Regions from separate parts of the Homo sapiens genome. Here region 1 is linked to region 2. The links come from fine-mapping of genetic effects on gene expression. A gene starts in region 2. The other region holds a variant in brackets. All regions are shown on one strand. Distances are from middle to middle.

Region 1 (16,321 bases), 380 kb before region 2:
TGTGGTCTTACTGTTCTCATGTAATGAAATCCAGGTTTCCTCCACTGCCTCTTTTCTCTCTTCCATTTCATTGAGTACTACTTTTGTGATAGGCATCACTCTGAGGGAAGGGAGAAAAATCATAAGGTGGACATTTATCCTTGACCCTACATTCTATTTTCTCTAATATGATTATTTCTTTGGAGCTGGTTACCACATTCTTTAAACAGCTTTGTTGAGATATGATTTGCATACAATAAAATTCACCCATTTAAAGTGTACAACTCAGTGATTTTTAGTATTTTCACAAATGTGTGCATCCATCACCACAGTCAATTTTAGAACATTTTAATCACCTTGAAAAGAAACTTGTACCCTTTAGCTGTTGTCCCTCTAACTGCTGTCTCCTTTTCTCCCAGCCTTAAGCAACCACTAATCTACTTTATGTCTATATAGATTTTTCCTAGTCTGGACTTTCACATGAGAGGAATCTATAGAATATGGTCGTTTCTGGCTGGCTGCTTTCACTTAATATTATGTTTTCAAAGTTCACCCATGTTGTAGCATGTCGCAGTACTTTATTATTTGCTTATGGCCAAATACTGTGCCATTGTATGGATATACCACATTTTGTTCATCCATTTGTCTGTTGATAAACATTTGAACAGTTTCTATGTTTTGGCTATTATGAATAATGCTGTTTTAAACATTCATGTTATGTTTCTATGTGGATATGTTTTCGTTTTTCTTGGGTGTATACCTAGGCGTAGAGTTGCTGGATTATATGGTTTAATCATTTGAAGAACTGCCAGCCACTTTCCCAGGTTCTCGCTCTGTTGCCCAGGCTGGAGTGCAATGGCATGATCATAGCTCACTGCAGCCTTGAACTCCTGGGTTCAAGCGATTCTCCTGCCTCAGTCTCCTGAATAGCTAGGACTATAGGCATGTGCCACTATGCTTGGCTAACTTTTTTTTTTTTTAAGAGATGGGGTTTCTCTGTGTTGCCTACTGGTCTTGAACTCCTAGCCCCAAGTGATTGCACTATTTTATATTCCCACCAGTAGTGTATGAGGGTTCCAATTTTTCCACATTTTTGCTGTGAAGCAGGTTTACTGTGTGTTGCTTACCAACTTGTCTGAGTCTGAGGAGACAAGGACATCCATGTACAATGTTACATGAAGAGGGTTTATTATTTACAAATAGACAGTAAAGGACAACAGAAGCCTAGGATTCATTCTGAATGGGTCCCCCATGGCTCAGGAAACATGCCCGGGGCAGATAGAGTCTTGACTGCAGGGGCCACACTTACATGGCGGGAGAGGAACCCTGAAAGGCAGCCCACTCTGGGTTATACACCTCAGGGTTTATGTGACACACTGAGCTAATGCTTTAAAAAATGTCCTGCTTCCAGGGGTGAAAGGAACAAAGCCCACCTTGTCCCGGGCAGTTGCGCCCTCACTCAAGATGTTAAATTCCTGGGAGGGACAGGAGCAAGGCTGGACATTTTCAGGCAGTTCTTCCCTATTTCAGGATATTGCATTACCATCACATTCTACAGTCACTTTTGAGAACTATGAGCAAGAAAAGGAACTGAGTTAGTCCAAGGCCAGCCAAAGAACTATGCCACACTTGCCAACACTTGTTATCTGACTTGGCTTTAGCCATTCTAGTGGGTGTGTGACGTGGTATCTCCTGTGGTTTTGATTTGCATTTTCTGATGACTAGTCGTGTTGAGCATCTTTTCATGTGCTTACTGGCCATCTGTGTATCTTTTGGAGAAATGTCTATTTAGGTTCTTTGTCTCCTCTTCCCCCTTTTTTTTGAGACAGGGTTTCACTCTTGTTACCCGGGCTGGAGGGCAGTGGCACAATCTCAGCTCACTGCAACCTCCATCTCCCAGGGTCACGTTATCCTCCCACCTCAGCCTCCTGAGTAGCTGGGACTACAGGCAGGCACCACCATGCCTGGCTAACTTTTTGTATTTTGGGTTGAGACAGGGTTTTGCCATATTGCCCAGGCTGGTCTCGAATCAACTCCTGAGCTCAGATGATCCACCTCCCTCAGCCTCCCAAAGTGTTGGGATTACAGGCGTGAGCCATCATACCCGGCCTCTTTGCCCTTTTAAAATTGGGTTGTCCTATTGAAGTGTAAGAGTTTTAAAGAATGTATTCTGAATATAAGTCCCTTATAAGATAAATGATTTGCAAATATTTTCCCACATTCTGTGGATTGTCTTTCCACTTTCTTGATGGTGTCCTTTGAAGAATAAAAGTTTAAAATTTTGTCCGGTTGTGGTGACTCACGCTTGTAATCGCAGCACTTTGGGAGGCTGAGGTGGGCAGATCACTTGAGGACAGGAGTTTGAGACCAGCCTGGCCAACATGGTGAAACCCCGTCTCTACTGAAAATACAGAAAATTAGCCGGGTGTGGTGGTGGGCGCCTGTAATCCCAGCTACTCAGGAGGCTGGGGCAGGAGAATGGCTTGAACCCAGGAGGCGGAGGTTGCAGTGAGCCAAGATTGTGCCATTGCACTCCAGCCTGGGCAACAAGAGCAAAACTCAGTCTCAAAAAACAAACAAACAAAAAAGTTTAAAATTTTGATGATGAAGTGCAGTTCATCTGCTTTTTTCTTTTATCGTTTGTGCTTTTGATGGCATATCTAAGAATTCCATTGCCAAATTCAAGGTCACAAATATTTACACCTGTTTTTCGGAAGAGTTTTATAGCTTTAGCTCTTAAATGTAGGTTCATGATCCATTTTGAGTTGTTTGGGTTGAGTTAAGGTGTGAAGTAATAGTCCAGCTTCACTTTCTTGCATTGGCTATCTAGTTGTCCTACACCATTTGTTGAAGACTGTTCTTTTCCCCATTAAATGATCTTGACACCTTATCAAAAATCAGCTAATAATAGCTGTGTGCATTTATTTCTGGACTCAATTCCATTCCATTGATCTAAATGTTTATCCTTGTCCCAGTACCGCACTGTCTTGATTACTGTTGATTACAGAGCACGTTGAATTTGTCAATCAGTTTGGGGAGTATTGTCATCTTAATGTTGAGTCTTGTGTTCCATAAATATGGGATGTTATTTGTTTAGAACTATTTTGATTTCTGTCAACAGTGTTTTGTAGTTTTCAAAATATAAATTTCGTATTTCTTTGTTAGATTTAGCCCTAGTTTTTTGATACTATTGTGAGAATGTTTTAACTTTATTTTTGGAATACTCATTGCAAGTGTATAGAAATGTAATTGATTTTTATATATTGATTTTGTATCCTATAACCTTGCTGAAGTCATATATCGTAATAATTTTCTAGTGGATCCCTTAGGATTTTCTATATACACAATCATGTCATGTGCAAATATAGTTTAATTTCTTTTTTTTCTAATATCAATACCTTTTCCTTTTCCTGCCTAATTGCCCTGGCTGGAACCTCCAGAATAGAAGTGGCAAGAGCAGGCATCTTTGTCTTATTCCTCATTTTAGAGGGAAAGCATTTAGGCTTTGACCACCAAGTATGATGTTAACTGTTAGGTTATTTTTTTGTTTGTTTGTTTTTGTTTTTGCAGATGCCCTTTATGTTGAGAATTTCCCTTCTATTTCTAGATGAGTATTTTTTTTTTTAATCATGAAAGTGTTGGATTTTTCGAACGCTTTTTCTATATGAAGATGATCGTGTCATTTTGCTTTGCAATCTGTTAATATGATGTGTTTAATTGATTGGTTTTTGGATGTTCAACTAACTTTGCATTTCTAGGATAAATCCTACTTGGTCATGGTGTATAATATTTTAATATATTGCTGGCTTCTGTTTGCTAGTCCAGTCGTCTTGCAGTATCTGTGAGGGATTGGTTCCAGGACCTCCTGTGGATGCCGAAATCAACGGAGGCTCAAATCTCTGATATATAATGGTGTAATATTTGCATATAATCTATGCACATCTTCTCGTATATTTTAAATAGTCTCTGGGTTACTTAAATACCTGGTACAATGTAAATGCTGTGTGAATAGTTGTTATACTGTACCATTTAGGGAATAATGACAAGAAAAGGTCTGCACATGTTGAGTACCAACGCAACTGTCCATTTTTTTCCTGAATATTTTTGATCCATGATTGATCTATTCCACAGATGTAGAATTGACAGATACGGAGGGCTGACTGTATTTTGTTGAGGATTTTTGCATCCATGCTCATAAGAGATGCTGGTCTGCAGTTTTTTCTTTTATGTTTTTGTGTGGTCTTGGTATTGGTCATATTGGCCCAATAAAATGTGTTCGGAATTGTTGGGAAGAGTTCATGAAGAATTCGTACAAATTCTTCTTTTGAATGTCTGATGCAATTCAGCAGTGAAGCCATTTACACTTGACTTTTCTTTTGGGTAGTTTGCGGATTACTGATTTAATTGCTTTAACTTGTTATGGGTTTATGCAGTTTATGTCTTTCTTGAATCATTTTTGGTAGTTTGTGTCTTTCTAGTAATTTGTCCATTTCATCTAAGTTATCTAATTTGTTGGTGTATGACTATTCATGGTATTTCTTTATAATCCTTTTTGTTTTTATAAGGTTAGCAGTAATGTCCTGTCTCTCGTCTCTGATTCTAGTAACTTGAGTCTTCCCTCTTTTTTCTTTCATCAGACTAGCTGAAGGTTTGTCATTTTTTGTTGACCTTTTTAAACAACTAGCTTTGTTGGTTTCATTGATTTTTCTCTATTTTTAAATTTTCGTTTCATTAATTTCTGCTCTCATCTTTTATTCTTTCTGCTTGCTTTAGGTTTAGTTTACTCTCTTTTGGTATCTTAAGGTGGAAAGTTAGGTAATTGATTTGAGATTTTTTTTTTAATTAACTTTTTCAGAGCCAAATACTTCTGAAGAGATATTTCTTAATCTAAGCATTTGCAACTATAAATTTCCATGTGAACACTGCTTTATATGTATTCCATAACATTTTGTATATTGTGTCTTCATTTGTATTGATCCCAAAGTAGTTTCTGGTTTCCCGTTTGATTTCTTCCTAGATCCCTTGGTTATTTTGGACTGTGTTGTTTAATTTCCACATATTTGTGAATTTGCCAATTTTTTTTTCTCTTAATGGTTTCTAATTTTATTTCATTGTGGTCAGAGTGTATACTTTGTATTATTTCTATGCTTTTACTTTTTTTGAGAGCATATTTCGTGTACACCTGAGAATGTATATTCTGTTAAGTGTAATGTGCTAGAAATATCTGTTAGGTCTCTGTTGATAGTGTTGTTCAAATTATCTGTTTTCATGTTGATCTTCTGTTTTGTTCTATTATTGAAGGGGGAGTATTGAAGTCTCCAGCTATCATTGTTGAATTGCCATATGTCTTGTTTTGTGTATTTTGGTGCTGTTATTAGGTGCACCTGTATTTTTAATTGTTATATCTTTTTCTTGATGGATTTACTTTTTATCGTTATAAAATGACCCTCTTTACCTCCAGTAACATTTTTTTATTTGTTTTAGTCTGTTTTATCTGATATCAGTATAGCCACTCCAGTTTTCTTGTGGTTGCTGTCTGCATGATTATCTTTTCTCATCCATTTACTTTTACTCTTTTGGGTCTTTGAATCTCAAGTGTATCTCCTGTAGATAACGCAGAGTTAGATCATGTTTTTAAAATCCACTTTGACAAGCTACCTTTTTGTTGGATTGTTTGATCCATTCACATTTTAATGTAATTATTGATAGAGTTACATTTTACTTTTTGTTTTTTGTATGTCTCATGTCATTTTTCTCTATTTCTCCTTTGTGCTTTCTTTTGCAATGAGAGGATATTTTCTAATATAGCATTCAAATTTTTTTCTTTTCTTATTCAGTGGCCAGTTACTAGAAGGATTCTAAATTCATTAGTAATTTTTTCCACTATATATTTTTTCAAAGTCATTGTTCTAGAGCTTACCCTATGTATCTTGCTAGAATCAAATTCAGATTTATACTTGCTTAGTTTCAGTAATACATGCTAAAATTTATTGAACTTTACTGCTATATAGTTCAGTTCCCATCCCCCCTTTGTATATTATTGTTATATATATTACATATATTGACATAATCCAACAATACATTTTTTTAAGAGTTACTTTACCGTCTGTAGCCATTTCCTTAGCCCACTGCAACTTTGTTTCCATCCACCCCTTTTTGCTATTAGGGCAAATATATTACACATATATTACATTCTGCCTTATAAGCTCAACATTATACTATGTAATATTTATACAATTGCTTTTTAATTCAATTAAGAGAAGAAAGGAGGGAAAATATACTTGTGCTTATTGTTTGCATGGACTTGAATTACCATCTAGAGTCACTTGCTTTAGTAACTTTAGTAAACTTTTTGTAACTTTATAGCTTGAAGAACTTCGTTTAGTAGTTTTTGACAGTGTGGTCTGTTAGCAATAATTCTCTCAGCTTTTTATTGATCTGAGTCTTTATGTCACCCCAGTTTTGCACTATAGCTTTTCTGGACTGAGAATTCTTGGTTGACAGGGTTCTTTTGTTGTTGTTTGTTTGTTTCCACTTCTTTACTGCTTTTTATGTTATCCCACTACCTATTGGCATCATTTATTTATTTATGTATTTATTTATTTATGTATTTATTTATTTATTTATTTTGAGACGGAGTCTTGCTGTGTCACCCAGGCTGGAGTGCAGTGGCACGATCTCGGCTTACTGCAAGCTCCACCTCCCGGGTTCACGCCATTCTCCTGCCTCAGCCTCCTGAGTAGCTGGCACTACGGGCGCCTGCCACCACATCCGGCTAATTTTTTGTATTTTTAGTAGAGACAGGGTTTCAGCGTGCTAGCCAGGATGGTCTCGATCTCCTGACATCGTGATCGGCCTGACTTGGCCTCCCAAAGTGCTGGGATTACAGGCGTGAGCCACCACGCCCGGCCTTATTTATTTATTTTTGAGATGGAGTCTTGCTGTCACCCAGGTTGGAGTGCAGTGGCGTGATCTTGGCTCACTGTAACCTCCATCTCCCGGGTTCAAGCGATTCTCCTGCCTCAGCCTCCCGAGTAGCTGGGGCTACAGGCATGCACCACCACACCTGGCTAATTTTTTGTATTTTTAGTAGAGACGGGGTTTCACCATGTTGGCCAGGCTGATCTCGAACTCCTAAATTGTAGATCTTTCCAGGAATTAGTTTCTGACGTCAGTGTTTGGTATTTGTGCTAACACCAGGAGGGCTCCTCCCAGCCATCTTAATCCCGAGTTTTCTTCTGCAAACTAGCCTGTAGTCCAGGCCTGTATCTTCATTAGATCTATTAGTCTCCTCCCAGTTGCTCTTCACCATAGCTTGCACTGTTTTGGTTTGTTTCTTTGTATTTGAGACAGGGTCTCACTCTGTTGCCCAGGCTGGAGTGCAGTAGTGCGATCTTGGCCCACTGCATCCTCAACTTCCGGGGCTCAGGTGATTCTCCCACCTCAGCCTCCTGAGTAAGCTGGGATTACAGGTATGCTATCACACCTGGCTAATTTTTTGTAGAGATGAGGTTTCACCATATTGCCTAGGCTGATCCCAAACTCCTGGGCTCAAGTGCTCTGTCTCGGTGTCCCGAATTGCTCTGATTATAGTTATGAGCCACTGTGCCTGG[CTGTGTG/C]TGTGTGTGTGTGTGTGTGTGTGTGTGTGTGTGTGTGTGTGTGTAGGGTCTCATTTTGTCACCTAGGCTATAGTGCAGTAGTGGCACAATCAGCTCACTGTAGTTTCCAACTCCTGGGCTCATGCAGACCTCTGCCTTAATCTCCTAGGTAGCTGGGACTACAGGTACATGCCACTGTACCTTCCTGATTCTTGATGGGGCTCCAGGACTCTTATGTTCCCCAGGCTGGCCTTGAACTCCTGGGTGCAAGTGATTCTCCCGCTTCAGCCTCCCAAAATGCTGATTACAGGCATGAGCCACTGGGCCTCATTCTACTTTCACTGTTCTTGAGAACAGCTTTTTTTTGTTTGTTTTTTAAACTTTACTGTGCACTTTTGCAAATGAATTTTGTTCTAAAATTTTTACAGGTTTTCTTGATTTGCTTGCTGTTTGCCCTCAGGATCATTTCCAAAGGCTTTAAATGTTTTTGTTTTAAAAGTAATATTTACCAGTTTCACTGGGGAGCAGGTCGTTGAAGCTCTTCATGCTGTCATGTTAGAATAAAATCTTCTGATAAGACTTTATTTAGCAAATGATGATCAATGTCACACACCTTGCCTATTTTGTATCCTCTGTAGTACCTGATATAGACCTTGGTACACATCACTTTGAATCTAGTGAAATTACAATTAATTAGTCTAACATACTGGTTAAGGTACCATCTCTGAGTCATGGTTTTAAATCCTAGTTCCTGAATCTATAGTAGTGTGACTTTGGAAAAGCCACTTAACCTCTCTAAGCATTTGTGTTCTTAATTGTAAGTGGGATACTCCAGACCTCACAAGGTTGTTGTGAGGATAGAATGGAATAATCCATGAGTAAAAGCCCTTGTAACAGTGCTTATCACGTTAAGTGCTCCGTAAATGCTAGTGGTAATTATTAGTCCTCATTCACTAACGTCGTATAAAAATGAAGATCTAACACACGTACAACTTGAAAAAATACTAATCACCCATAAGTGTTAAAATTGTCTTATTATAGGTTGAATTTTTAAGCCAAAATACTGTAATTTCAATTTTTCATTAGCCCTTTGGCCATTTCTCTCTAAAATATCACCCATGGTTTGAATTTCTTTTCATAGTTCCAAGCTTCTTTAAGGGAAATCTGAAACTGAGTTGTATGGTTTGGCATATGACTTCCATCAGTGGGATACTCCTGTTGCCCTGGAACCTCAGACATGATTCATGGTTTTTCTAATGTTCCTGTTAAATCCTTTGTAGGTTTAAACAAAAACAATGCATCTACTGAGCTATTGGTGGTGGTTTCTCCTCATAAGGTTGACTGGAACAGTGGGTTGGCATGAAATTCATTTTAGGGATATACTTCAAAACCTGTGTAATGTATATTTATACAAACATTATTTGTATATTTGTATTATCTTTACTTCTTTAAATACCTTCTTTATCTTGATTTCTTGGCATTTTCATGCACAAATATAATGATATCCCAACTGCCTATTTGGAATAAATATATCCCCTGCTTTATCCATGAAGTCACGAAGGAGCAGGCTTCCTACTAGGCAGAGCTACCTTGACTGCCAGCCTTCTGGTAGGGGTGCTCTCTGTTCCTTCCTAGGCATTGTTACTCAGCCAGGGCACTGCACTGCCTTTCTAACCTAAGCCTTCACATTCTCTGGGAGCTTCTGTCTCAAGTTGCCTGGTTCACATGGGACCTGGGTGGGTGAAGGGAGAGGAGAGGGCAGGAGTTGACCCATCTGGCTGTTGCTGTGACTGGCGCTGATGAATCATCCAGAAGCTGTCCCTTGAGCCTCCTCTCTGGGCCTAGAGCCCTCTTGTGTTAGCCCACCTTTGGCAGCATATCTCTTCTCACATGTTGGAGGTACTGCACTCCATCTTCAGTTAGGGCTATTGGTTGCCCATATTTTAGGTATCACTCATCATTTCTCAGCCACAAATTCTGGTTTTCCGCCGTAGTTATACAGTAGATTTGTTTGTTTGTTTGTTTGGTCTTTCATGTGGTCTTGGGGTAGAAAGGGAAGACTGCAGTGTGTGTTCAGTCTGTCATCTGGGGAATCCAAAAAATAATTAAAAGTCATTACTTGAAATACATTGGTTTTAGGGTTCAGAGTGGCTCTCCTTTTAGCTGCCCTTTGATTAAGGATCTCTCTTTAACTGAACAGGAAACGTGTTGGTATAGCATTGGACAAGGTTCTTGAGGAGTCAGTTCTTTGTTGAGCATCAGAGTCTTCTCTTGATGAAAGGAATTCTAAAGTTACATAATAAGTGTGTTGGACATGTCTACAGTACTCTTGAGGGGAAAATATATTCAGTTTTCTTACTGGGAATACCTGGAGCTCTTTTCTCAAAATTAGGACCCACCTACTCCGTACTTTATTTTTTTTCCTAGGTAGTAGAAGTAGAAATTCTCATGTAGCTCCACTCCATATGAAGAGCTGTGCCTTTTCTTGTGCTAGGCACTAGGGCAGGGATTAGCCTGCTGGTGACGTCCTGTTTTTGTGAGTCAGGTTTTATTGGAATACAGCCATGTCCATTCATGTTGTGTTGTTTATGGTTGCTTTCACTCTTCAAAGGCAGATATTAGTTGTTGCAGCTGAGATCATATGGCCAGCAGGTCTGAAATATTTACTGATTTTTTTCCTGGAGGGCACAAAGAATGAGTTTTGATTTTCCTGAGTGTGGTGGGCCGTTGGACAGGATGAAGGTGGATGTGGACTTTGGGGTGTAGAGGTTAGATGAAGAGGCAGAGAGCCTCTTGCCATCATAGAGTTTGTTTTAATTTTGGGGTCATCAAATTATCTTTTTCTATAGACTCCACCCACCCCCCCAAGAATTGACCTGCTTTTTTCTTTACCACTTATTCCACTCACTGTTCCTGATCAAGCCTTTTTTTCTTGATTCACAGCATGTATGTACAGAAGATTGTCTAGTAGCTTCTTCTCTGTTCTGCCTTAAATCCCTTTTGTTATTCTTTCCCTCCAATTCTAAGTGCAACTTGAAGCCCAGTTGCATTCCCGTGATTCCTTCTCAAAGACAGTCAATATCCTGAAGTTGGTGTTTATCATTCCTTTGCTTTTCACCATGCTTTCATTGCATATGTATTCGTCCCTGAGCAATATTGAATGCTGTTTTATTTATTCATAACTTTCTGTAAGTGGTATACTGTATATGTTCTTTTTTTTTTTTTGGCCTAGTATGTTTGTGACCATCTAGCTCTAGCTCTTCCAATCTCACTTGCATCTCACAAGTATATGGATGTTATATGAGCTTATTCTTTTCCTGATGGGCTTGTTTCCTTTCCTCTAAGTTGATCTGTTTACTTGTTTAAGAGATGAGATCTTACTCTGTCGCCCAGGCTGGCATACAGTGGTGTGATCATAGCTCACGGCAGCCTTGAACTCCTGGCCTCAAGCAATCCTCTCACCTCAGCTTCCGAAGTAGCTGAGACTACCCGCACATACCACCATACCTGATTTTAAATTTCTATTTCTAACAGCTTTATTGAGATATAATTTGTGTATCATGAAATTGACCTGCTGAAAGTGTATGATTCAGTGGTTTTTAGTATATTTACAGAGCTGTGCAATCATCACTATTATCTGATTTTAGAGGGTCTTCATTCTCAAAAGTAATTAGCAGTTGCTACCCATCTCCCTCCCCTGTCTCCACCCTCACCTGAAGCAACCATTAATCTACTTTTTATATTTGCAAACATGTCTATTTTAGACTTTTCATATAAATGGGATTGTATAGTACTTGGTACTTCATGACTGGCTTCTTTCACTTAACCTAATGTTTTTGAGCTTCATCCATGATGTAGTATGTACATGATGGGCTTTTAAATTGCTTACAGTTTTTGCTGTTACAAGTGATGCTTTATATGTGCTTGAGGAACTGTTATTTTTTTAAGTGACTTTTATTGTTAATAGTAAAAATTAGATCTCATAGTCTTAATCTCTTGCTGAGGCTCTGGAAGAGAAAAACAAAGGAAGTAACATTTACAAAAACATAATTGAGTATCTCTGGCAGTGAGTAAGCCCTTATCTTTTGAGGAACTCAATGTAGCTGGGGTAGATTGACTAACTGTAAAACAGTGGAAGTGCTACAAGTGAATAAGCAAAATTATGAGGAAATTCAGAAGGAACAATTTCTTGGGAGATATGTACAAGGTGTTATAAAGTGAGTGACATTTGATTTGAGTGTAGACCCTGGAAATTAGTAATTTTTCAGGAAGTGGGTGTTGACAAGGGAGGAAGAAGGTGTTCTGAAAGAAGCATCATGTGACGGCATTGAGAGATCAAAAGGCATTTTCCAGGAACTTACAAGAGAGTGAGTGGGCTTCAACAATAGTATGGCAGGATAGGAGACTAGGAAGGCTCCAGGCTCATTGATAAACACCTGCTGTGAGAATCATTAGAAAAATTAGGTAAGATTAAGGACGTACACTTTTATGTTTTAGAAAGAGAACTCTGACAATGCAGAAAGTGAGCTGGAGACCAGAGAGTCTAGAGGTGGGGTAGACTAGATGAAGGTTGTTGTGCTCTTTTAGGTTAGAGATGGTAACTTCTTGTTGTTCATGGTGGTGGGAATGAAAGGAGATGAAGTAGGTAAGCATTTTTTACGTTACTTTGACAGGACTTACTGATGTGAGTGGTGAGGGAAATGAATTTTAAGATGACTCCCATGATTTCTCACTTGAACAACCTGAATGATTTGTGAATTTTCTAAACATCTACATTGTCAAAAATAACTTGTGTTAGAAGCCATCCACTTTCTACAGATAAAATATCTGCTTCAGTTTGCTTTAAGGAATAAAATAACTTATTATAATTTAAAGGTTACTTGAAGTGTTTTATTTCCAGTTCAGAAATGAAACACAAGTTCATATTGAGCCTAGGATCTGTCATTTTTAGACTTGAACAATCAAACTACTATTAATTATCACTTCCTCATAGCCAAAAGAATGCAATGGTGTAAAGATTCCAGTTGATGCCAGTAAACCTAATCCAAATGATGTGGAGTTTGATAATCTGTATTTGGATATGAATGGAATCATCCATCCCTGTACTCATCCTGAAGACAAGTACGTAACCCATTTTTGTCACTGATATAGCAAATCACAGAGGAAACATTATATTATATTACATTGTTTGGTTGTCATTATAGACCAGCACCAAAAAATGAAGATGAAATGATGGTTGCAATTTTTGAGTACATTGACAGACTTTTCAGTATTGTAAGACCAAGAAGACTTCTCTACATGGCAATAGATGGAGTGGTAAGTGCTAAAATAATTAGAAGCCTCCATTTTGTTTTTTTTTGCTGTGTTACCAGTGTCTAGAATGAAAGTCAGCTAAATAATGAAAAATGTTGACAGTGATGAACTTGAGAAAGAAAGCCTCATCCTTCAGTCATTCATTCAGATGTTTTTTTGTGTGTGTGTTTTGTGCTTATTTTGTGCTCAGTACTGTGAAATACTGGGGATGTTGGCGACTGCCCTTGCTTTTGAACTTTTGGCTTACTGTCAAAGGGAAGGAGGCATAGATAAATGGGTGAGCTTAATTATTTATAGGCATTATAAGCACTAGATAATACATGCAGGGTGTTGAGGGAAGAGGAAGTCAGTGCTACTAAGGAAGTTAGGATATAGAGAAGAGGTGACTTTTGTTCCATTTCTTTAACAATGAAGAATAATTGGGAGATTGGTGGGTGGTGGTGGGAGATGGATGGGACAGGGTTTGGGGAGGGAGGACCTTCCAGATTTCTCAAATGTGGCAGGTAAACACACTTTCCGTGCCTTTGACCACACTGACATGTTTTGGCAACTACAGGTGGTTTGAATTGAGAAGGGAAGTATAGCAAAAGCTTGAGAAAGCCTTACCGTCTGGAGTTTGGACTGTATCCTATAGGCAATGAGTAGTCATGAAAATGATTTGAGAGGAGTAAGTTACTGACCTATGATAATAATACCAAGTAGCTCCTTTTATAAATGACCAGCAAACTCTATTAGGGGGGTAAGGTAAGATATAACTCTAAATTTATTTAGCTATCTGCAAGTAGATTCTTTTAATTTTAGTGCATCCTAGCGGCTAATGGGATGATTTTGGAAATTCAGAGAACTTTGAATCCAAGAAGATTAACTTTTCTGTGAGATTCGTCTTACTCAGTGAAAAACCTTAGCTACCTGATAACTTGCTAAGTTGCAGTTAGAATGGAGTAAAGAGTAAAAAGAAAAGGAATATGTCTTGTTTAGAGCACATTTCAGTTTATATTCAGCTAATTTTTTTTGAAGAAATCTTTAGCTTTACTCCAGTGTGTTCTTTCTGCTACATCAAGTATAAAATATGTACACATTTATATGCATGTGTGTGTACATGTTTATACACACATTTTTTTGTTTATATATAAATGTAGATACAGAACTTTGTACTTGAGAGGGCTTCATTAGATGGTCTCATTCTACAGAAAAGGGAATTGTTTAAAGAGAATATTAAATAACTTACATTTAGATGTAAACAGGATATTTCACAGTTTCTTCCCACCCCAAAACTCAGTTCAGTAACTTCGAAAATCTTACAATCTAGTTCACTTTATTTGGGCTTTTCCACTGAAATTGCATTTGGTTAGAGTGATTTAAAAGTACTTCTGGTTAAGGCATTATTTCTTTCTAACTGCTATGCCTTATTGAAAAGACAGAAAAATTATAAACCTTATTGTGGGAAATAGAAGTGCACCGAGATTCTTCACATAAAGAAATAGTTTTCTGTTGCTTTTATGAGACATTGTGGATCCCATTTGGACACCATTCTTCCTTTTAGGTGTGGACATAGAGAATGTCTTCCTGATCTTAGTTCAGTAGTAACTGCTCATCAGATGTTGGCTGGGTCTTTTGAGTAAAGTGAGCTTTCTTTCTTGGGTGCCCTGAATCAAGCACCCTAACCGAGGGGAACTGGTGTTAGACTGGGAGGGCTTGAAGTATAAGTGCTAGGGCTTCATAGGATGTTTGTCCATTTGACGTGGCACTCATTCACCTGATTGAGCTCAGCTTTTGGGTTCTCGGTCCAAATTTAAGTTCTCAGCATCTGGTATCTGTCATGAAAGGATTATTAGACACATTACTTACCTTTCTTCCATTTTAGTGTACTGCTTTTATAAGAACAACTGATTCAAAATAAGGTACAGATTTATTTGTGAATATTTTGATGAGTGTTATGGAATATGAAATACATTTTCAGGCACCACGTGCTAAAATGAACCAGCAGCGTTCAAGGAGGTTCAGGGCATCAAAAGAAGGAATGGAAGCAGCAGTCGAGAAGCAGCGAGTCAGGGAAGAAATATTGGCAAAAGGTAAAGAATATGCATCTTGAAGTTGGATTTTTTCATAAGATGTATGCAGAATGAGGGGGTGGTGGCAACTTTTTCTTACAAAGAGGCAAGCTTTTAATTTAATAAGGATCCCAGAATATCCAGTGTTCACTGTTGAGGAAAAGTAGTTCATGAAATCTACCAATAGGCTTAATAGGCTTGTTTATTTTCAAACTCTCCAGTAAGAGGGAGCCTTGGGAATAGGGAATTCTGGTGGAGATTGCAGATTGTCAACTCCTCTCAGGGCCAGTGCAGCTCTTTAACAAACTTTTATGTCTCTGTAGAATAGAAATATAGTAAGTATTTTTTACTACTTTTCTCTGTGGCGGCTGTCAGAAAGCTATAGTGCTGTAAACATTTTCCTCAAATCAGCTTTGGTTTGCTTGCTTTTTGAAACTCAGAGGTCTATCTGAGGAAGCCGGAGGTGATTCGATCCACATTTACAGGCTGTTGCCAAGTCATTTGCATACTTTCAATATAGGTTGATGGAGCAGGCACAGTACTTATGGTTCCTTCAAGTTTGGAGGGGTTAGGGTGGGATGTCTTCATTTTTGCAGTTCCCCAAAGCCTTAAAATTCCTGGTGGCTACATGGGTAGGAACTGACTAAGCCTCAGAGAAAAGGAAGATCAGGGAGTGTTGATGCCAGTTGGGACTGGTTCTCTCCTACCACACCTGTGTGTGAGGTAGGGTATGGTTGTAGCAGGTTTGTTTGGTGTTCTGCTACTTAAGGGGGTATAATAGACCAGAAAAGCCACAGTGTCTTGGCTCCGGATAATTGCACTCTGCAGTTGAAAAAGGATGCCATAGTATAGCCAGCTCAGGCCTGCAATTACAATAAATTTTATATTACTTGAATTTTGCTGGAAGTGTACAAGTATATAGTTCCTTTAGCTGCAACTTGTAATTAAGACTCTAAAACCTGTTTGTATTTATAACAATGTTTCTGATTTTAAGAATGTCTTTTTTTTGAAGATGTGATGAAATATACTTGTTTCTTGAGAAGCAGCTAATAGTGATAGAGAGGAAAAAATAGGATTTTTATATTCCTCTACCTGATAATTGTATTTCTTATCCTGTAAAGCTGTGATGAACTCGGCATTTTAAATTTCATTTTTCTTAGGCACCTTTATTTTAGGAACTGTTATCAAAAAATATGGCCTCTAACTGGTGTGTGTGTGTGTGTGTGTGTGTGTGTGTGTGTGTGTGTGTATTCTCTTACAGAGTGAAGAACTTCATAATTTTTATGTAACAATATAATATCTTTTGTGTACCATATATTGTTTTACAGTCTTATTAAAACATAATTTAAAAGGCTGAGCACGATGGCTCACCCCTGTAAT
Region 2 (16,321 bases):
GTGTCCATGCAAGATTTTAAAAGATAAATGAGACCCAAAGCCCCTCAAGAATTTGTGTACTTGCTCTTTTAGTCTTAATAGTGACTTAGTAACAACATTTTACAGCTAAAAAGAATCTGAAAAACCATTGCTTACAATGCTGTACTTTTATGTACCTTTTGAGGACAGAAAGGTCCTACAGTGATGCGGTTACTTCCATATTTTTTGCAACTTGTTTAAAAAATGAAATGACGTTTGTATTTTAGAATAAGCGTACAAAACAATAAAAATCAAATCAAATCAAGCAGTTTAGATTTTAACATGTATTACCAAGGTGAGGCTAGCGAAAATGAAAAGGAGCTTTCTTTTAGTTGATTTCTGAGACTTGGAAGAGCATATGTGAAGTGTTCTATGAGGACCACAAGTCTGGGTCTGGATAAAAGCAACACTCAGATCTGCAATGCAGTAGTCCCTAGCCAGTGTGCAAAAGTCACCCCCGTTCTAAGCTGCATGGCAATGAAATAATGTTAACAACCCCACTAGTCATAAAGATACAAACTACACTGAGCCCTTCAGAAGATTCTGTATTTCTCAGATGGCATCAGAAGCTTGAGGGTTATGATTGCTCTGTGACCTTACATATCTAGAGAACTGTGCTATTTAACAGTGCTAAGAGTAGAGTTCAACTCCCACCTCCTCGGACAATGAAATCATTCGGACTCCCTCACTGGGTAGCATTTATGATTCATTGCCACCTCTCCCAAATTTGATCTGTCAGCCCGAGAGGCTAAGTCAGTTGCTGACTCTCTGCTGCTCCCCAACCCCTCCAGCTTACTGTACAGTGAAGCTGTACGGACGGTTATACCTAAGCAGGAGGCTGGGGTCACCTGTGTGAGGGCAGGAAGACAAAGGGATCTTTAAAGATGACAAACGTCAGGCAGCCAACCCAGCCTGGGAAGGCAGTGTTCTCCCTGTTTCCAGGAGGGGTCAAAGTGACATAGTGTGACAATGCCCAGGAAGGCTGTTTTAGACATGGATTTAAATATATTTTCATGAGCCACTGTAAGGTGTTCACAGAGGTGAGACCAGTGAGCCACCCGCCTTTCCTCTGGCATCCAGGAAAACACTTGTGAAGCAAGAAGTATCATGTTACACCAGCCCTTCTCTTCCCAGTTTCTCCTAAAACAGATTCTCCAACTTCAATACGCATTAGAATCACCTGGGCAGCTCTTAAAAATCCCAGTGTCCAGGCCACAGCCCAGAAAAATTCAATCGGAATCTCTGGGGATGGGTCCCAGGCATCAGGGCCTTCTAAGTCTCCCTTTGGTGAATTCAATATGCAGCACCAGTTGAGATTCAGTGTTTCTTAAAGAACCCTTTACAAAAGCAGGACTGGTTGAAGTGGTGTCTATTCAACGGCACAGAACTGAACATCGGCTCTAAATGACTGTTCAGTCGGCTTATTGCAGGACTGGGGAGAAGCACTCACCCGCGGTGGTGATGCGGCTCTTTTCCTGCATAAAATCTACAGACCCTGTCTAATATTTTCCATGCCAGGCAATGAGATCACAAACTCCAAAACATTAAATCAAAACCGGAGGCATTACAGGTCTTCAGTAAAACTTCATAGTCCGTACACAAGGGGGGGGAGAGAAGAAAATTAAAACCATCACCAAGCTGCGGACATATTATATGTGTGAGTGTGTGCATTTTTTTTGTGTGTGTATGTATGCATGTACGTATGTATGTATGTATGTATATGTAGCAAGCATTGGGATGTCATAGCAATTAGAGACAAAAATATGTAGAACAATAATTAGTTAAAAGTGATTGGCTAGGCAGACAGTAAAAAGTTACTCACAAGTAAAAAGAATCCATTTGTGCCTTAAAGAAAGCTCATCATAAAAGATCCTTGATTCCTAACAAGGAAAATGATTTATGCCAAGGTGGGTGGAAATAACAGTGATATACATATGATAAATTAAATGAACATGAAGGAGATCCTACTTTCATGAGAATATTCAATTATAAAGGACTTCAAGACTTCTGAGTTTACAAAACCGTGTAACAAAGTCTTTATTCCAAAATAGCGGTGTTTCTAAATAGTATGCTGGATATAAAAAATAAAAGCCTTAACATCTAATTCTAATCATAATTTTAATGATGGAAGAAATGGATAACTGAAGATGGGAGCAGTACTTTGGTTTTAACACCTGCAGTAGCTGCAGGTGTTAGCGTTCCTTTAGCAAACCTTCTACCTATCTCATTTTCAGGGCTTGAATTATGTTTTTGTGTGGGTGTGTGCTGAAGATTGGAGAGGACTGATCTTTAATAAGAAACTAGACAAGTCCAGGCAAACAAGGACTGGCTTGACATTGTCTTTAATCAAGACAAAGGGCTCCACATGGGTCCTTCACCTTCCTTGTCCATTATTCAGGTTCTATTACCATGTAGGAACAGAATTTCCAAAGCACTACCCTTGCATTCAAGGGCAACACACTTCAAGCTGGTTCCAATTAGGCTGGGCCAGTGTGGATGTCTCACACGCGTCAATATTTGCAGCTGAGCTAGTCAGATCTGCAGGGGTATCCTCTAGACAGCAGGAGACCCTTCTTACTGCTGCCTTTGTGAACAATCCTGCAGGCATTTACACCACCTCCCTCTCGCCTCCCTTCACAAATACCATTTCTATCCTTTGTACCCCTGTGGCTACTCTTAGATCTCCCCTTTTCCAAATACCTGGGAGATATGCCACATGGACATTTCAAGTTTCCCAAATAATTTCCATTTTATTAGTGACATTTAGACTTAATACTGTCACTTAAACATTTTTTGAGTGCTCACTGCGAAGGTGGAATTTTGACCCATGTCTGGAAATTTCTGCAGGCATTAATGTTGATGAAATGAAATTAAATCAGATCTAATTGCACAGTAGAGGTCATTTTATATAAGAGGAAATTGAGGCTTATTTGACATGCTCATTGCCAGGGAAAGAGAGAGACATAATAGCAATCTGCAGAACTCGATTTGGGGCTAGTGAGAATATACACACAAGAATGGCAAGAATGCCAGATCCTCCTGAAGGCTCTAGAAACCGTTTCTTCCTACAAAGGGCACCAACCCTCTGTAGTTTATTTTTATCAGCCAAATTCCACGTTTAAAATATATCTACTCCAAAGTAAATGTTATTAATGTAGTAGTCAGATCCCTGCATTGCAGGGTAGAAAGTATCTCAGATCTTCGTTGCCAATACTCAATTTCCCCCTATTTATTTCTAGTGCAGGTTTCACAGCAAATCTGTTTTCTAATTTGCTTTTTTCTTACATCTCTGAACAGAATTGAGGAGCACTGGTCTTCCACCGTTTTGTTAATCACATTGAAAATGTTCACCTATTCTTTTTTATTCATTTCACTTTAGGAAAATGAAAAAAGTTGTCCTGGCTTCTCTCGCCATGCATTGCCAAGGACGTTGCTCGCTGGTAGTGGCCAGTGTCAGCGGAAACGGTGCTCCATCCACCACAGCTGACCCGACTCATTTTCGATAATAAACATTTCCAGGGTAGCGAACATCATGGAGGCCTAGGCAAAGAACCAACTTTACGACCGCCTTGGTCAGCAGCAGGCCAAAGGAAAATAAGCCGCGGGAATGGGTCCGCGAAGCCAAGGACGTTATTTCTCGCTCTTGGGGGCTCTGTTTTAATGCCAGTTGGCAGGGTCCTCAACACCTTCCATTTGGGGTCTGGAGAGTCTGTGTGTCCTAGTCAGGAGAGGCAGGTTCTGTGCAAAACGCACTCCCCACCTCGTCCTTGAGGATCCACTCTGTTGGGAGGACGCTCTGACCTTGCGCTCCGAGGCGGCGCTCACAGGCGCCAATTCAGAATCTAGTCTTCCTCTCCCCTTCCTCGCTCCCTCCTTCCACCGCCGCAGTCATTCCCCGCGGAGTTTCGTTGTGTTGTTACACAAGCCAGCTTTTGGTTTGTTAGTTGTTCGCATTCCCCCAGGGTTTGCAGCTCCCCGATCTGGCTCAGCTCTTCTTCCCATAGTTTCTTTGCAGCTAGCAGCTCCTCATTTCTCTTTTCGTCAATTTTCTTCTTATTTTTAAGTATGATGTGGCGGATCTTTTTTGCAAAACTACGGGCATGTGTACGTGTGGAGCTTGGTACTATAACCTGATGCATAAAGTGCGTTTTTAGCCCGAGCTGCTTTTTTATTTTCCCCTTCAAACGTAAATTTAAGAAGAAAATTAAGAGACTCAATTTGACTTTGATTTTGAACCACAGGACTCATGGCTCAGTGCTCTTAAAACTCTTAAAAACACAGTAAAAGCGCAGGTCCTGAGCAGAGCCAGGACTCATGCAGGAGCGAAAGCGGGCCTATTAAGGCCTGAGGCTAGGACGTCGTGAGGAAGACCCGGGATCCCGGCCCTGCGGCCCCTGCGGGCTGCTGCTGGTGGGTACCAGCTTTCGTTGTTAGGCCCAAGTCTGGCCAGGGCTCTCGGGGAGTGCCACCTGTGTTTTCTGCCCTCTGTTACTTCCCGCAAGAACCGAAATGCGCACCTGTATGCCCAAGTTGGACTTAAATCAGCTTTTTCTTAAGGTTTCTCCTGGAGTCCTTGAAATGCATGGGCCCGGGGAACATCCCGGCCTATTGCTTGTTTTAACTCCCGGAAACAAACCCACCAAAAATCAAAGCCAAGTATGAGACATGAAGTGGGGGCGACTGTAGCTCCAAGAGCGGCCCTGTCACCGAACCCCTGGGTGTTTAGCAGTGTGAAGTTTCGGGTGTTGAGTTCACGGCTCAGGTGGCGTGCAGCAAGGGAGTTCTCATCAGTAACCCCCCTTGCCGCCAACCCCCAGTCCCCAGAAGGGCAGGCACCCCTTCGCGCCTCCTTTTTGACTCCCGCTTTCGGCAAAGAGTTTACCTCTCTTTCTTTTCCTGCCTTGGGAAAACTGGGCGAGGGCCCGAAGCCTCTGGGGTACCCTCAGATCCATCCTCTGCCCTGCTAGGAGTCCAGCCCCAGGCGGAGGAGTTTTGCCCCAGGTTTCTGAGTGCGCCCTCAGCTAACAGGCTCCCGCGACCCTGGAAGCGGAACTTTGTTGCACTCCGCTTCCAGAGGACGCTGAAATACGGTGCCAAACCCAGCCAAGCAAAAACGCAGAATCCGCGAGCTCTTTACCTCTGTGCGCTCAGCGCTGACTAGTAGCTGTCCCCGGGCCATGGAGAGGGCTAAGCTGCCTCCTTGGGAGGTGGGAGAGACGTTTCTTTTCCTTCTGCAATCTCATCTTAGGGCCATCTCTCACCAAGCCTAGCCTGCAGCTCGGGAACCCGCGATACCCGGCCGGGGGACGACAGGGGGCGACAAACTGTAAGGTTTTCCCTATGCCCGACCGTGCAGAAGGCTGCAGCGAGGGCTGTGTGCTCCCGATCGCGCACAGCTGGCTGCGGGAAAGGGGCCAGGATTGAGACGAAGGCTCGCGGACTCTGCTACCGGGGAGAACCACCCCCTCTCATCGTGCGCAATCCCCAGACTCACCCCTCTACAGTAGCCCCCAGCCACGGGCGGCCTTCACGGGGACGGGGGCGGAGTTTTGTCCTGGACTGCGACTCCTTGCCACTTTTCCAAGCTCGGCAGCAGAGGTGGGGTGGACGTTCCCCTGAAAGGGTAGTTGGGCGAACCAGCTCTCACGGTGTCACGACCGGCTTTATTTCCTCGTCTTTAGAGTGTGCCTGTTGACTCCTCACCTACTGGGGGGAAGAAGCGGCTTTAGCTGCTTTTCCGGATCACGAGTATCCACTGGACTGAGGCAGGGATGTGGCGTTCCTTTATCTCAGAGACTCCAAGGTCTGGAAATCAACCTTTCTTGGTATCTCGCGCCCGACGAAGCTAGCAGATTCCGCAATGGAGAGCACTGGGCAGGGTGCGTCCCCACTCCCCGCACCCCCGGAGCCCCGAGCATACTGTGCGTGCTTAGTCCTCTCTTCGCTGCCTTCGCGGAACTCCTGGCTTAGGCGTGCCCACTTTAATCCAAACCATTCCCTTTCCCTGTTCCTTACTCCAAACCTACGCTGTCATGGACAGGCCTAATCTTCTACATAGCTTCCCCTGCTCCCACTCTCGCACCCTCCTGCCAGTGCACTGACCCTCAAACCTCCTCCAGGTCTCCAGGACCTCCCAGAGCCAGAGACTGTACTGTGTTCATGCCGCCGGAGAGGAAGAGTTCACTTCTTTTAAACCTGATTTTTCTTTTTCCAGGAGTAATTCTTGTCTGTGGCCCCACCGCGTGCTCTCTCTAGAGAGTCCAGGAATTATGAGCCAGTCACTCCTGACAGATACATTTAGACAGGTGGATTAGGAGCCAGGGATGCTCTCTGGCCCTACAGCGGAGGCAAAGGGGTCGGGGCCTCCGCAGCCATGGCTCCCCAGGGTGGGCTGATAGGGTCCATGTGCTCCTCAGCCACTGTCACCGCGCTGGCGCCATACTCAACTCTGGGTGGCTAAGGAGAGCTAGACCCTTGGGGTGGGCAGGAGGGAGGGGAAGAGGGTTCTCTCCTCCAGGGGAGCGCTGGGAGTCTCAGAAACCTCGGCTGTTCCTACTCTCTCCCCTATGCCCTCTTCCTGGTCTAGCACATTCAGCCCAATGCCTTTGGTGCTTACTGGGCTCAACCTCAGAGCTCTCAGATCCTGACCCCCTCAAATCAGTTCATGTTCAAAACCACGAGTTTCCTCCTCTTGGCCCTCACCGCATGGCTCCCGGACACAGTTAGCTGCACAGGTTGGGGAGTTCAGAACTGCTTTGGTGCAGGGTAGAAACAGAGAAATTGTTGATGTTCAATCTCAGGGGTGAATAATTCAGGGCTGCGCAAAACCTCATTTAAATGAAGGAGAAATGACCATTCTGTGGTTTAACAGAGACTTCCTGAAGCTGCAGGTGCTGGGAGAAAGACGAGGCCAGGCCACCTGGGATAGAGTGGTGCGAGATTCCACCGCCAGGGAGAAAGGAACTTGTCCTTCAGACCTAGAGCTGGAGCTATGCATTTGGCCTCCCGCCGGTCGCGCTTGGGGACAGGAGGGCGCCGGATCTATGCGCCCCTTAGCAGCAGATCGGGATCCTTTTGCCTCCTGCCCCTTCTGTCACTGCTTGGAGAGGGATGAGTTCTGGTGGCTGGGCCTGGCTGTAGGAGACAGGATTTGGACCGTGCCCCTCTCGCATCACCGAAATCACCCCCACTATTCCAAGAGTGGTTGGCTATTAAACGTGAAGATTTCCTGAGAGAAGGATTGAGGACCTGGCCAGGAATGGGACACAAGTTCCGCCTTGTGTCTTCCTGACAGGAGCCCTGCACCGCGCTGGACGCTCACCTTGACACTCCCAGCCAGCTGGGGTACTGATCCCACCCTTCCCCGGCCGCTGCCCCGGGAGTGGGGAGGTAGAGAGAGCCACACCCGAAACACCTTTCCACGATAAACTTTTATTCTCTATCTTATTATTAATGGTGGCGGAAATAAAACTAAAACCAAAACGAAAACGAGTACTAGTACTAACACACTAATCAATTTGAGATGACTTCCCCCTCATTCCCAAAGCTAGAGGAGGAAGGGGGCTGAAAGGGGCTCAGAGCAGTGGAAGGTCCCAGGCCCAGCTGGGGTTGGGACGTGTGTGTGTGTGTGTGTGTGTGTGTGTGTGTGTGTGTGTGTGTAGAGGGGTGGGTTCCGGGGGGGTGGTGGAAGAGGGCCGAGGGGGGAGGATAGAAGGAGGGGGTAGAGTTTCAGGGCGGGGAGGGGGGCGCTGGGGCGCAGTGACGGGAACCAATGAGCTGCCAACTCGCGCGTCTCCGGCGTGACTGCCGAGATTGACGTGGAGGACACGTCAAATTGATTCCCGCACGCTGCAGCCTCCCGGTCAGACGAATTTCTCCCAATCGGATGAAGTTCACCCTGGGCCTGGGGTCGCGGGCGTGGAGAGTGTCCTGGGAGGGGGCAGCAGCGGCGGCGGCAGGCCCTGGAGCGGGCGGCAGCGCGCTCCGCTGCCGCGCACAGCGCGTCTCCAGCCCGCGGCTGGGCCGCCGCGGCTCTCGGCTCTCGGGCGCCCTCCCTCTATGCCTCTCACGCGGCGGCGGCGGCGCCCAAGCTCTCCCGGACTGCGCCGGGCCCAGCCCCGGCCACCCCGGCCACCCCGGCGCCAGGCAGCTGGCCGGCCCGCTCGCTATGGGTAAGGGGCGGGCGACAGGCAGGGCTCGGGAGGGCTGATGAGGTGGGTCGGGTCCGCCTGCCTCCCTTCCCTCTCGTCCGCTTTCCCTGGGCGACCCAGTCCTGGGTCCTGGAGAAGCTGCATTCTCCTCTGATCCCCAGCCTTCAGGGGGCAGTTGAGCAAGTCTGGGAAGGGAGTGTTCCAAGTAGACGCGCTAAAAGTCGCGAAAGGGCACGGAGGGCTACAATGCGCCGCGCTCCACTCCGCGGCTCCTCTGCGCCCTTGCCCACTCCAAGCCAGACCCAGGCGGTTTGCCCTTGGACTCCGAGCTGTCTGGGGACCCACAGGTCACCTTTGGAAGTGCGCCTGGGTGCAGTCCCTCGCTCCGCGTGGGGACCCTTGGCTAACCCGCCGGGTGTTTTCTCCCCCTCCGGCTCACTCTTGTCTGGCGCATCCGCAGAGCAGACGTATGGCGAGGTGAACCAGCTGGGCGGTGTGTTCGTCAACGGCCGCCCCCTGCCCAACGCCATCCGCTTGCGCATTGTGGAGCTGGCGCAGCTGGGCATCCGACCCTGTGACATCAGTCGGCAGCTCCGCGTATCCCACGGCTGCGTGAGCAAGATCCTGGCGCGCTACAACGAGACCGGCTCCATTCTGCCCGGGGCCATCGGGGGGAGCAAGCCCCGCGTCACCACTCCCAACGTGGTCAAGCACATCCGGGACTACAAGCAAGGAGACCCTGGCATCTTTGCCTGGGAGATCCGCGACCGGCTGCTGGCCGACGGCGTCTGTGACAAGTACAATGTGCCTTCGGTGAGCTCCATCAGCCGCATCCTGCGCAACAAGATCGGCAGCCTGGCGCAGCCCGGACCGTACGAGGCAAGTAAGCAGCCGCCGTCGCAGCCTACGCTGCCCTACAACCACATCTACCAGTACCCCTACCCCAGTCCCGTGTCGCCCACGGGCGCCAAGATGGGCAGCCACCCCGGGGTCCCGGGCACGGCGGGCCACGTCAGCATCCCGCGCTCATGGCCCTCGGCACACTCGGTCAGCAACATCCTGGGCATCCGGACGTTTATGGAGCAAACAGGTCAGTTGTGGCGGCCTCCGTAGCCTTCTATTAAGGGGCAGAACCTGGGGCGGGCAGGCTTGCAGGAGAGGACTCACACTCGCTCTCCTCCCGGGACCGGTTCTGGCTCAGGGGAGGGCTCCACACTGGCCAGGGAGGCTGGGGGTCCTGGGCCTTTTGTAAGAGACCTCGGACATCTTGAACTTTTTATGACAAATATGGAAAATATTTCCCAAATAGAAGAGCAATCGCCGACCACAAATTTGGAGGCCTGAAATTGTGCTTTTTCATTCTTGCAAAAAGTATGCAAGCCCCTGTTGCCAAATCTAAGGGGGAAAAAAACCCGCTCAATTTTGAGACCCTTTCTTTAGCTCTCAGAATCCTTCACGATTTCCCAAGGGTTCTGTCCCCCACTCCCAGGCCCAGTGGCTCTTCTGAGTTAAAGGAAAAGGGATCTTGTGGTCGATTGAGTGGCCTACATCTCTAAGGTCCTGTGGCCTTGCAGGTCCTGGAGTTTGCGGTGATGGCTGGTGGGGCTGCAGCCACCTTCACAAGGATTTGTCATTTATCTGCAACTAAAGCTTAACACACTATAGGTCAAGTGGGTGACGAGGAAGATGGGGAAGGCGGGAGGTTTGGAACAACTTTGATGCCTGGCTGGGAAAGAAACCAGCCAGAATCGGGTCTGGATTTCTTTGCGCTCTCCCCAGCTGCCAGCAGCTGGCCAGGGGATGGCACACTCTTAGGTGATCAGACTCAGGAGGAGGGCAAGAAGCAAAATTCACCATAGCCTAGGAGGAAAGAGTGGTGGCTGGAAAGAAACTGTGAGTGCTCAGCTCCAGCAGCAGCAGCGCCTCTGTGGCCCTGCTCTGGCTTTGTGTCTCCTGGTGGCTCTAACCCAGCCTAAGGCTAAAGCTTCCCATGGAATGGCAGGGGTCTGGAGGTGACCCCACCAAGCCTGCACGCAGATCTGGAGGTTTCCCTTGGTTCCTGGCACACACAAGGGCCCGGGGAGCAGCTGTGTGCTTCTATCTGACCCGTGGGGACAACAATGTTGACGCTTCTTTTGGGAAACCCTGGGCGTTTCCAGAGGCAGTTCTCGTAGAATCGTCTCCCTGCCCTCCAGAGGCTTGTGCAGATGTTGAGAAATCAATACAATTTTCATGAGGTTGCTGTAGCTTTGAACTCGGAAGTTTCTGGGAGCCGTGTCTGGACAATGGAGCGGCCGCTTTGGCCGAGTCTGCCCAGGCTTTGACTCAGCAGCAGCCTCCCGTTCGTGGGAAACCGGTTGAAGGCTAGGAGGACCGGGCAGCAGGCCTGGCTGCCTTTCCTCCGCCCCACCCGGAGTGGTGAACATTCCAGTCCCTGCCGCCTCCTGGTGGAGTGTCAGGCCACCTACAAATTTTGTGGGACCCCTGGCCGTGTCTTCAGATACAAATTGGGTGGTTGGCCACACGTGTGCCCAGGGCAGATTCGGAGGCACCTTTTAATCCGTCCTCTCTCTCCTGCAGGGGCCCTGGCTGGGAGCGAAGGCACCGCTTACTCTCCCAAGATGGAAGACTGGGCCGGCGTGAACCGCACGGCCTTCCCCGCCACCCCCGCAGTGAATGGGCTAGAGAAACCTGCCTTAGAGGCAGACATTAAATACACTCAGGTAACCAGGAGGCACGTGAGGCCGTGACCTTAAGTAGGGAAGCAGAAGGTTTGGGCAAGTGGGGAAAAAGAGAGAGAAAGAAAAGAAAAAATTTCCAGGCAGAGAGATGGTTGTATCTGGCAGCCGGCTAGCAAGCGTCCTTTCTGTCCTTTCCTCAAGCGTACTAGTTTGGGAGAGTCTGACTTTAGAGGGGTTGACTTGCCTTTGCCAAGATAGCTTAGCTAAAAAAAGCTGGAACTCCAGATGACGAATCCACAGTCAAGGGCCTTCTTTCTCTAAATCCCGATATGAATACCATGACCCCTTCACATCGTTATTTGTAACAGTTTGAGTGAATTCTTAGAAATCACTTTGCCAAAGAGTCCTGACTAGGAAATTTAGAGGCCAGGCCTCGCATGGGGATAATGGATGGGCACAGGACGTGGGGGAGCGATAATGGACGAAAACCCCCGTCTCAGTGATGGCGTGGGCTAGAGAAGGCAGGATTTTCTGCTGCTGACGGTCCCTCTCTATCCCCACAGTCGGCCTCCACCCTCTCTGCCGTGGGCGGCTTTCTCCCCGCCTGCGCCTACCCGGCCTCCAACCAGCACGGCGTGTACAGCGCCCCGGGCGGCGGCTACCTCGCCCCGGGCCCGCCGTGGCCGCCTGCGCAAGGTCCTCCTCTGGCGCCCCCCGGGGCCGGCGTAGCTGTGCATGGCGGGGAACTCGCGGCAGCAATGACCTTCAAGCATCCCAGCCGAGAAGGTGAGGAGCGCAGGGAGTGGGGCGGGTGGATGCTGGAAGGGTTAGGAAGGGTACTGGGGAGCGGGTGTGAGCCTGGGAAAAGGGAGAGCGGGTGGGGAAGAGGTGGGTCCTGGGCATGAACCCTTCTTCTGGGTTAACCTTTGAGCATGTAGCTTCTTGGAGCAGATTAGTTCTGACAGGTGTCCCTATAAAGGTACCCGAGGTTGAGAGAGACTGGCCCCAAGACTGTCCCCTCCACTTATGATGGGAGAGGTGAAAGGAGGTCCTTCTGGCACACAGGACGCGTGGGTTTGGATCCGGTTCTGGCACCTTCGACCAAGTTCCTGCTTCTTTCTGGGTTTCTGTTTCTCCATCCAGAGACACGTCTAGCAGGCACCCTCCAGGCTCACCTTTCTGTAGACCTGTTCTGGCACCTAAGCCCTTTAGGTGGGGTTGGACTTGCTAGTGGCACCTAACCTCCATCCCCAGACCCTTCCCGTCTCTGCCCCACTGCCCATCTGTTTTTTCCAGGTTCCTTAGAGAGAAAAAAAGGCGTTTGGATTCTTTTTCTTAAATACACACTGTGGGAAAGTAGAGGCCATGTGAATCAGTGTCCTTTACTCCAGGCTCAGGAGCTTTCTGTGGTTGTGGGTGGTGGTGGTGGTGGGCGGGTGGGGGGGTTCTCTCTTTCTGTGGAAAATGTGCCTGGGAGTCTTGCCTCCTTTTCCGCTTCCTCCTTCTCTTCCTTTTCCATAAGTCCACTTCCTGAAAAGTCGAGGAACAGATTTTAGGTATTTCACTGACAGTCAGCAGTGTGAGGGGGATCTTCTCACACAACCAGGAGGGTTCCAGTTTTTCCTTTAACTTGGGAAAAGCTCACCAGCCCTTGAGTCCTCATTTTCTTTGTTGTTAAAAGGAATGGCTTGATTTGCTAAGTTCAAACTTGCCAGTGCTTAGGTTCTGAGCACCAGAAATTTGCAACTTCAACCAACCTGGGAAAGGAAAGGGTCACCCCAGGTCGTCCCAGCCCCAGCAGAGAAAGAGACAAGGCACAAACCTGGGGGACAGCGTGGAGTTCCCAGATTATAAAAGGATTTTTACTAGCTGCTTTGCCTCCACCTGTCCAGGGCTGGAAGCGAGGTGGATGTAGTGGCAGGTGGCAGTGGGCAGGCAGGGGACAGGAGGGCCATCCTCCTTGGTGCTGCCCAGGCAAAAAGTGCTATTTCCAAGTAGTCTTGATAAGATAGGAGGGCATGCCCTGGGGAGTGGGGGTGGGGTGGGGGGCAGGAAGGAAATAAAGATGCCATCCACAACAGTGAAATGAAGGGAGAAAAATACTTTTTCTATTTCTACCTTTCCTAGAGCACAGACATCCTGGGATATTAGGATAATGTTCACTTGCCTAGTTACAGACAAATCCAAATAAGGAAAATTTATAAAAATTGGGATTTAGAGCTCTTTTAAACTTTAAGTTTAATTTAAATAGGATACTATCATTTACTCATTTATAGAAAAATCCAAGTGAAGGAAATGTTAAAAGTTGAGAGTAAGAACTCCTTTAAGCTTTATGTTTAAGGATAGTTAAGGGGTCGCAGATGAGCGCTTCACTCATCCTCAGCCTCCAATCAACCTGTTTTCTCAACAACTGAGGTTATCTGTCGAAATCGAAATCAAAATAAAATTTACCACATTACACAAATCACTTAAATAAGCAGGTTCTTTTGAATTAAAAATGTATAACCACAGATTTGAAATATTTCACTGGGTTCATCTTAAGGAGAAGGAAGACTTAGAAAAAAGACCCACAGTCTTCAGAGGAATGCATTTGTTTTCAATAGAGCCACTTTGCCCTGGAGGCATTTTAAGCTCTACATTAGACACAAATTATAAAGTGCAGATAATAAGCCAAAGGTAACACACACAGTTCCTAATTCTAAACTACCTGTCTTAATTTGTGGTGGAAGTTGCGGGGAAGCTGATTTTAACATTAAGCCTCACTGGTGATTGATTTTCTTTAGAAGACACTTTCCTTTTCAGAAATACAGGGTCATTGAATGGTGCTGGCATAAGTCCCTTTTACCATTATATCAGTTTCCTATTATGTAATATCCCACCTGTTTTTAAAAGCTACAGCAATAATTTGTTACTCTAGTTATTAAATTAATAATTTAATTTTGTGGTCCTCCAACTTCTTTAAAGGTTCTAATAAAAGATAATCAGATAACTTGGGGACACCATTAGCAATGATTTCTCAAGCTGGCATGCAACTGTTTGTGTTCGAACAGGAATGTAGAAATAATCATTCATTATCTATCTATATTCATAGCCTGAGAATTACATACATGCTTGGGTTATGGATTTTTACTCCTTACTGGTAGAACAGCTGACTTCAAAGATCTATTCCCTCAACACAACTGGTCTTTGGAAAGACAGAAAAATAATAAGAATCACTGCCTTTTATTTTCTGATCAGTTCTTAAGAAATTAATATCTTCAAAGAAACCTGTCCCAGAGGACAATTTACTATCAGCAATTGTTCAATTCATAAGAATAGTGAGAATAGTATTTAGTGAACTCCTTTTCAGTAAGAAAAAATTCTTCTGTGTAATGAAAAGCAATTTAATACAATAAATGCTCAGTAAAAGCAAATACCTTTGATCACCTAACACATACACACCACACACGCACAGTGCAATATATATCAATATGTCCTCCAAATTAGTGCAAATGAACAGCTTAACAGTTACCCTAAGTGAAACTTAATCAAATGTCAAATCGAAAATTTAGCATTTAATTAGATATTAATTGATTAATTGTGTTATTTAATACTATAATTCATTTTTTTCTTATTTTTTAAAAAGGTAGTGAGTCTGGGTTTCCTATTATGTAGGTAAAAAGCATGATTTACATTTCCCATCCCCTGAAAGGAAACTTTAATTTTTGGGAATTGAGAAGAATAGAAAAAGTTTCGCTTAATCTTCACTTGGAGAGGCTGACATTCTAGGAATCTCCACCCACATCCAAATGTCTTTTCATAGCCAGGGCACGACCATCTCCCCTTCCCCACCCTTAGGTGACAGACACCACCAGATGCTCCCTCAAGACAGCTGGTATTTACAGGATGTTTTCAGAGACCCTCGAAACCTCAGGGTTTTAAGTCCCTCCTCGTGGGGCTCTGGAATGACTAAAGATTTGGAAATCAAATCTATAAGATACTGCATACGCACAAAGAAAATGTATTGCTTTTATTTGTTAAAGATAACTTGCAGCTTCGCTCCAGTTACCTCTGCCTCGGGATTGGTTCTTGGAAGATCCTAAAAGTAAACTTTGTCAAAGAGCACTAGGTCGCTGGCATTGTCGCACCCGGACGCTGGCAACCCCGGCCTCCGTTTGACCCAGCCCCGGGGATCCCTTCCCAGACCCGTGCCTCCCCTCAGCGGTGGTCTCAGAGTGCCCTGCAATTGCAGTTGAATATTTAAAAAATGCCTCTCCCCATTCTTAGCCCCTGAATTAAATGAGCCTGACCTAGGCCCCGGCCTCCGAGGGCCCAGAAGTACCCACCCTTGTTGTCCTATGGAGGGAATGGAGGGCAGGAGGGGCCCTATGAGGAAGGATGGCTTGGACAGGGCTAAAAACACAGCAGGATTCGCCCCTGTAGGGTGGGATGCAGTCTTCCTGGGTGTTTATTTTTCATGAGTTCAGTTTCTTGCTTGTCTCTAAGGTAACCGTCCCTTGGCTGAGAAACCTCCACCTCCTCAGATGTTTTCTAAACAGGTCCTCACTTTGAAGTGTGTGTCCACGGTAGAAAGAAAAGGTCTGAATACTTGTTGGCTGGGCGGCCACAACTTTGTTTAGGAAAAAGAGCTGAGAGCCAGGGAAAAGCAGAGGGGCCGCTCTGTCCTGGGAAGGTCTTTAGACCTCTTTAAAACCTCAACGAAACCGTGTGTTTTCTTTTTTTTTTGTGTGTGTGTGTGTGTGTGTGTGTGTGTCTTGCACAGAGGTGGTTGGCCCAGCTCTGCGCAGCCACAGCAAGTTGCGCCTGAGGCTGAGGCGAGGGAAGCTGCAGGAGAAAAAAAAATCCAGAGTTCCCCTTACTTCAAATCGAGGCGCTCCAAGCTCCCCCTTTAAAGGAGGACTTGGGGAAAAAAGAAAATTGAAAATAGGCCCCTGTAGGTATAAACAAACTGTGGATCCTAGTGTAGGAGAAGCAGAGTGGCTCAAGGTTGGGAAAGGAAAAACAGGCTTGCGCAATCGTGGCGTCACTTTCTGGCTTCCGGTGGCAAAACTTGGGCCCCTTCCCAAGCCCCTAAATAATAGAGTAAGGCGCAGAATACTGCCCGATCTGGCAATCCCACTGTCACTTAATCCGGAGGCCCACAGGTCCCAGGACGTGCTGTGCCCACAGTGGTGAGCGCATCTGGATCCCCGGACCTCGTGGGCACAACGTAGTCTGCCGCTCACTTAAAGCGCAACTGCCTCCTACGTCGGAGGAATCCAGGCCGCTCCAGGGAAATCTCTGGTGGCTCATTTCCCGCAAGATTTCCCCCTGCCCACAGCGAGCTCCGAGCCGCGGGTGTCAGCGGACTCGACGCATTGGCTGCTCTTCGCACTTGTGCGGGCGCCTGGGGTTTGGAAAGGGTGAGGGTCCGCGCAACGTTAGAGTCCTGTTCCCTTCTGCGGAAGTCGCCATCAGACCTGAAACCTTCCC

Alleles and levels. Alleles are on the strand shown, and positions count from the first base shown. SD is a standard deviation of normalised expression in the study named.
With allele C in place of CTGTGTG in region 1, the expression in synovium of the gene that starts at base 7,855 in region 2 is lower (large effect, 1.0 SD a copy in Steinberg 2020).

The links.
Region 1: its variant is fine-mapped to the expression of PAX1 in synovium (Steinberg 2020, PIP 0.95).

The regions. Positions count from the first base shown.
Region 1 is chr20:21,313,709-21,330,029 of GRCh38, forward strand. It overlaps XRN2 (5'-3' exoribonuclease 2), which reads left to right. Exons shown (of 30, transcript NM_012255.5): 2 at 12,571-12,698; 3 at 12,782-12,893; 4 at 14,851-14,962. Among named protein-coding and RNA genes, the nearest start is that of XRN2, 19 kb to the left of the region's middle. The variant CTGTGTG/C (reference allele first, on the strand shown) is at 7,593.
Region 2 is chr20:21,697,810-21,714,130 of GRCh38, forward strand. It overlaps PAX1 (paired box 1), which reads left to right and starts at 7,855. Exons shown (of 5, transcript NM_001257096.2): 1 at 7,855-8,189; 2 at 8,629-9,258; 3 at 10,749-10,891; 4 at 11,413-11,635. The coding sequence starts at 7,904. LINC01726 (long intergenic non-protein coding RNA 1726) reads right to left here and starts at 5,776. Exons shown (of 5, transcript NR_109878.1): 1 at 5,513-5,776. RefSeq lists enhancers at 3,277-3,882, 5,094-5,698, 15,032-15,531.